Linked DNA regions of Homo sapiens: region 2 is linked to region 1. The links come from fine-mapping of genetic effects on plasma protein levels. Region 1 holds a variant in brackets. A gene starts in the other region. All regions are shown on their forward strands.

Region 1 (2,909 bases):
TTTTTCTCTACCCCCAATTACCAACCCTCTAATTCTTCAACACTAGGCACATGGGAATTGTGTTTTGTTTTCAAACCTGGGCAACAAAGTGAGACCATGTTCCTACAGAAAATTTAAAAATAGCTGAGCATAATGGCATACAAGTGTAGTCCCAGCTACTTGGGAAGCTGAGGCATGATGATTGCCTGAGCCCAACAGTTCAAGGCTGCAGTGAACTATGATCCCATCAATGCACTCCAGCTTGGGTGACAGTCAGACCATGCCTCTAAAAAAATTGCTTTTTTGTTGGTTGGATGAATGGATGGACCCATGGATGAATATATAGATGAATGAATGGATTTGTAGAAGAGTGACTGACACATAGGAGGGACATTTGGATGAATGAAAGAATGGAGGAATAGATGGTGGATGGTTGAGATCAGCAAATGAATATATGGATGAAAAGATGCCTAGTAAAGGCACAATGTGATTTAAAAAAAATGAATCTCTCAGTGAATCAATGGACGGTTGGATGAATGGATGAGTGAGTAAGTGGTAGATGTGATGGAGAGTTGCACAATGAAATGGGGAGATGGGTTTGAGTGAATGGATGGTGAGTGAGTGAATGAATGGATAAATGGATAGATGGTGAGTTGGGTAGAGGGATGGACAAATGGACAGTTGAGTGAATGGGTGAGTGATTGGATTACCCGATGAATGGGTGGGTAGTTGGATGGATGGAAGGGCAGGTAAAAAATTCTGGCCACAAACTGAAGCGATCTTGGGGTACAATCTGGGCACAGTTTAGGTGAATAGCAGCTTATTTTCTGATCCCAAATTGGCTCTGTTTACCTCCATGGATACATATTCTCTATTTCTAGGTTCAGTCATCCTTCTGTCTCCCTCTGGGTTTCCAAGAATCTTACCTTGGAACTCCAATTGAACTGAGCCCTGGGCTTGTCTGCTGACCTTCTCAACAGTAAGGAGAACACCCCTGGAAGAGCATGTGTCCTTCTGAGGGTACAGGGTTGAACCAGCTCTTCATGATGACGGTGGTCTGCTCTTAAGCCTTTCTAGCAGTTTCTTGTTTTGTGGCCTCACCCAATCTTCACTGGGCATCAAACAGATGAAGATCGAACCTTGGTCTCCAGCTCAGTTCCAACTCCACCTGTCCCCTCCATGGGTGATGGTGGAGACAAAGGATAAATTAGAGAAAGGGGTCATCCAGGTCCACCCTTTGCCATTACTCCAAGAACTCTTTCCTTTTTCCCAGGTTCTCCAAGCAGCTATGGATGTGGGTTTCTCGGGCCTGCCAGATGTGTCTCAGAGTCATAGCAAGACCTTGTGGGGGGCTCGGGGCAGGGGCCCCTCCATACGTCGCCAGCGGGAGTTCATGCCAGAAGAAAAGAAGGACACAGTTTACTGGGAGAAGCGGAGGAAGAACAATGAAGCAGCCAAGAGATCCAGGGAAAAGCGACGTCTCAATGATGCAGCCATTGAGGGCAGGCTGGCTGCACTGATGGAGGAGAATGCCCTGCTCAAGGGTGAGCTGAAGGCGCTCAAGCTTCGCTTTGGCCTCCTGCCCCTGACTGGTGGGCCC[C/T]GGGCCTTGCCCCTGCAGGCTCTGCTATTGGAAGCCCCCTGGACTGGGGACCCCCGGCCTGGGGCTGAAGCACTCTCATCCTTGTCTGGCTCTCACAGCTGCCTCTTAAGGCCACGTTCCCTGGATGCTGGGATTCCAGGATGTCGGGGCTGCCTGCTGGCTCCCAGATGGACTGGCTTGGCCACTTCTCCTAGGTCCCCCCAAGAGTCTGCATCTCCTACCCTCAACAGAATTGACATGGCCTTGCAGACTGCCCTCCCACCTGCCCTCTTCAGCTGTCACCTCTTGGAGGGGCATGTAGGGTCCAGACCAGAGCTCAGACCCTGCTGGGGGCTGTGGTCACCAGTGCCCTCTGGATGCCGGGCTTCAGGGCCATCAGATGTGTTGCTGACACCCACTGCTGATCCCATGGGTCTGTCTCCTGGGGTGACCTGCCCTGCCCCAGGGAACAGTCCTGAGGGTCTGGGTCAGCCCTCTCTGCCCCACAAACTGCGCATCAAGTCCCGAGCCTCAGGCAGGGTACCTCGTGGCTGGGAGGGTGGTCAGGCGCCCCTCTGAGGGCTTCCTCTGGGAAGGGCTAGGCTTGCAAGGGGGTGTTTGGGGGCGGAATATAGGTTTGTCTGAGGGATGAGTAGCTTGGTCTTGATCAGCAATCTGGGAAGGCCTGTAGGAAGTAGGGGTGCCCTGGCTTGGAAGGTCCACTTCACAGCTTCCATACCAGACCTCCTAGGGGTGGAGTGGATGGGAGCCCATCTTGGATTCTACCATGGCTCTTGCCTTGCCTTAAAATCTATGCTTTGGGTTGTCACTTTTCCCTCTTCCTTCCTCCTTTCCATTTATCTATTCTTCCCTATAGCCATCCATTCATCCATTCATCCTCATTTATTCATCCATTCATTCATTCATCAATCCTTATCCATCCATCCATTAGTCCCTCCATCCTTATCCATCTATCCATCCATCCATCCATCCATCCACCCATCTATTCATCCATCCATCAATCCATCCATCCATTCCATCCATCCATCCATCCATCCATCCATCCATCCCTCCATCCATTCATCCACTTGTCCGTCCATCCATCCATCCATCCATCCATCCATCCATCCATCCGTCCATCTATCCATCCATCCATTCATCCATCCGTCCATCCATTCAGCCATCCATCTGTCCATTTATCCATCCTCCATTTATCCATGCATCTATTCTCATTCATCCATGCATTTGTTCTTCCTTCTTTCTATCTAGCCATCCATTCTCATTCATCCATGCATTTGTTTTTCCTTCTATCTATCCATCCATCCATTCATTCATCCACCCATCCACCTAT
Region 2 (2,852 bases), not on the chromosome of region 1:
TGTGAGGGCCAGTGGGAGGGTCCCGTTTACCTCCCCAGAACAGGTCCTGGTGTGGATTGGAAAGACTTGTTGACTGACTGTCTGAGCTATGACAACTCATTTCTAGGAGGAAAGTGACCTTCTCTCCCAGATGGGTCATACAGGCTCTCTGCCTCCCTGGCCATCAGCTGAACCACTATCTATGGCTCCCTTCCCTGCCCTCCAGCCTCCAGGGTGCTATCCAACACATGTGATATCTACATGTAGTATCCATGTCCTCATCTCTCCCCCGAGAGCTCCCTGGAAAGAGCTGAGCCAAGGCCTTGCAAAAAAGGTGGAGAAAGGGCCAGGGCCTGGACATTTCATGTTCCCACCCCAGCCTGGCCACTAGGAGTGTTCTACGCAGGCTCAGATGGATGGGGCTGGCCTCACAGTGGGGTCTGGAGGACTAAGGTTTGGTTTCTCTATGCAAGGTCAGAAAAACTCCCACAGTACAGGGAAACTGGCCAGGGCTGCAGACTCAGACCACAGTGCTAAAGCCATGAACTCCACCTGCTCTCTGAAGGCTCGCCAACCTGAGTCCAGCAGAATGTTCTCGCTTGTGTCCAACCCCACTGGTTTAGGCTGAATCAGCCTCTAGGGCCCAGAGGCACTGCACCTGGAGTAGGGAGCTTCTCCAGTATCAGAGTCACCTTCAGAGGCCTGGAGCCTTTCATAAAGCAGGTAAGAGGACTCAATAGATGCATCTGCATGGAAAACATCCTCCCCTCTACCAGGCACCTGTATGTACAACCAATCACAGCAGCACACATACACCCAGAAATGGGCACGTGTGGGCCCACACCCCTTTAGCTATGAAACCCAGGCATGGGGCAGCTTGAGCCAGATACCTTGTGCAAACACAAACTCGTGCTGTCTTCTCTGAACTCCATTGTGAAAATCAAACACTTGTCAGCCCCTCAAGAGCCTTTAGATTTCCTACTTCCACACTTCCACAGAAAGGCCTCTGGAGTTGGGGGATGCTGGGGTTATGTAGGAAATTAAGCCTGGAGGGCCTTGCTGGGGAAGCCATTGTCCCTGTACCTGAGATGGATGCAGCCACAGCCCTGGAGCCAGCCTGAAGCTCCTGGTGTCTTCTGGGGGCTACATATAGGAGTGTAGTCCGAACCTCAGAGGGGCAAACCTGCTCTGCAGAGGGAATCAAGGTTCACATAACCAGAGAGGGGAGTCACTCAGGAAGGTGGCTCCAGAGCCAAGAGTCAGACTCTGGGTCCCGACTTGACCCAGCCACACCCCCTCTGAAGCTTGCTGAGAGTGGCTGCAGTCTCGCTGCTGGATGTGCACATGGTGGTCATTCCCTCTGCTCACAGGGGCAGGGGTCCCCCCTTACTGGACTGAGGTTGCCCCCTGCTCCAGGTCCTGGGTGGGAGCCCATGTGAACTGTCAGTGGGGCAGGTCTGTGAGAGCTCCCCTCACACTCAAGTCTCTCACAGTGGCCAGAGAAGAGGAAGGCTGGAGTCAGAATGAGGCACCAGGGCGGGCATAGCCTGCCCAAAGGCCCCTGGGATTACAGGCAGGATGGGGAGCCCTATCTAAGTGTCTCCCACGCCCCACCCCAGCCATTCCAGGCCAGGAAGTCCAAACTGTGCCCCTCAGAGGGAGGGGGCAGCCTCAGGCCCATTCAGACTGCCCAGGGAGGGCTGGAGAGCCCTCAGGAAGGCGGGTGGGTGGGCTGTCGGTTCTTGGAAAGGTTCATTAATGAAAACCCCCAAGCCTGACCACCTAGGGAAAAGGCTCACCGTTCCCATGTGTGGCTGATAAGGGCCAGGAGATTCCACAGTTCAGGTAGTTCCCCCGCCTCCCTGGCATTTTGTGGTCACCATTAATCATTTCCTCTGTGTATTTAAGAGCTCTTTTGCCAGTGAGCCCAGTACACAGAGAGAAAGGCTAAAGTTCTCTGGAGGATGTGGCTGCAGAGCCTGCTGCTCTTGGGCACTGTGGCCTGCAGCATCTCTGCACCCGCCCGCTCGCCCAGCCCCAGCACGCAGCCCTGGGAGCATGTGAATGCCATCCAGGAGGCCCGGCGTCTCCTGAACCTGAGTAGAGACACTGCTGCTGAGATGGTAAGTGAGAGAATGTGGGCCTGTGCCTAGGCCACCCAGCTGGCCCCTGACTGGCCACGCCTGTCAGCTTGATAACATGACATTTTCCTTTTCTACAGAATGAAACAGTAGAAGTCATCTCAGAAATGTTTGACCTCCAGGTAAGATGCTTCTCTCTGACATAGCTTTCCAGAAGCCCCTGCCCTGGGGTGGAGGTGGGGACTCCATTTTAGATGGCACCACACAGGGTTGTCCACTTTCTCTCCAGTCAGCTGGCTGCAGGAGGAGGGGGTAGCAACTGGGTGCTCAAGAGGCTGCTGGCCGTGCCCCTATGGCAGTCACATGAGCTCCTTTATCAGCTGAGCGGCCATGGGCAGACCTAGCATTCAATGGCCAGGAGTCACCAGGGGACAGGTGGTAAAGTGGGGGTCACTTCATGAGACAGGAGCTGTGGGTTTGGGGCGCTCACTGTGCCCCGAGACCAAGTCCTGTTGAGACAGTGCTGACTACAGAGAGGCACAGAGGGGTTTCAGGAACAACCCTTGCCCACCCAGCAGGTCCAGGTGAGGCCCCACCCCCCTCTCCCTGAATGATGGGGTGAGAGTCACCTCCTTCCCTAAGGCTGGGCTCCTCTCCAGGTGCCGCTGAGGGTGGCCTGGGCGGGGCAGTGAGAAGGGCAGGTTCGTGCCTGCCATGGACAGGGCAGGGTCTATGACTGGACCCAGCCTGTGCCCCTCCCAAGCCCTACTCCTGGGGGCTGGGGGCAGCAGC

Alleles and levels. Alleles are on the strand shown, and positions count from the first base shown. The strength of an association depends on the size of the effect and on how common the allele is.
With allele T in place of C in region 1, the plasma level of the protein whose gene starts at base 1,909 in region 2 is lower (strong association).

What was found. PIP is the chance, under the fine-mapping model, that this variant and not a neighbour inherited with it causes the effect. Protein levels are from antibody-based Olink assays in UK Biobank. Linkage for the fine-mapping came from a reference panel and not from the study's own genotypes, which makes the PIPs less certain.
Region 2: CSF2 starts here. The variant in region 1 is fine-mapped to the plasma level of the CSF2 protein (UK Biobank, PIP 0.94).

What each region holds. Positions count from the first base shown.
Region 1 is chr19:8,675,499-8,678,407 of GRCh38, forward strand. It overlaps NFILZ (NFIL3 like basic leucine zipper), which reads left to right. Exons shown (of 6, transcript NM_001378600.1): 5 at 861-958; 6 at 1,253-2,909. The coding sequence starts at 1,268. The coding sequence ends at 2,137. Among named protein-coding and RNA genes, the nearest start is that of ACTL9, 22 kb to the right of the region's middle. The variant C/T (reference allele first, on the strand shown) is at 1,580.
Region 2 is chr5:132,071,881-132,074,732 of GRCh38, forward strand. CSF2 (colony stimulating factor 2) reads left to right here and starts at 1,909. Exons shown (of 4, transcript NM_000758.4): 1 at 1,909-2,102; 2 at 2,201-2,242. The coding sequence starts at 1,944.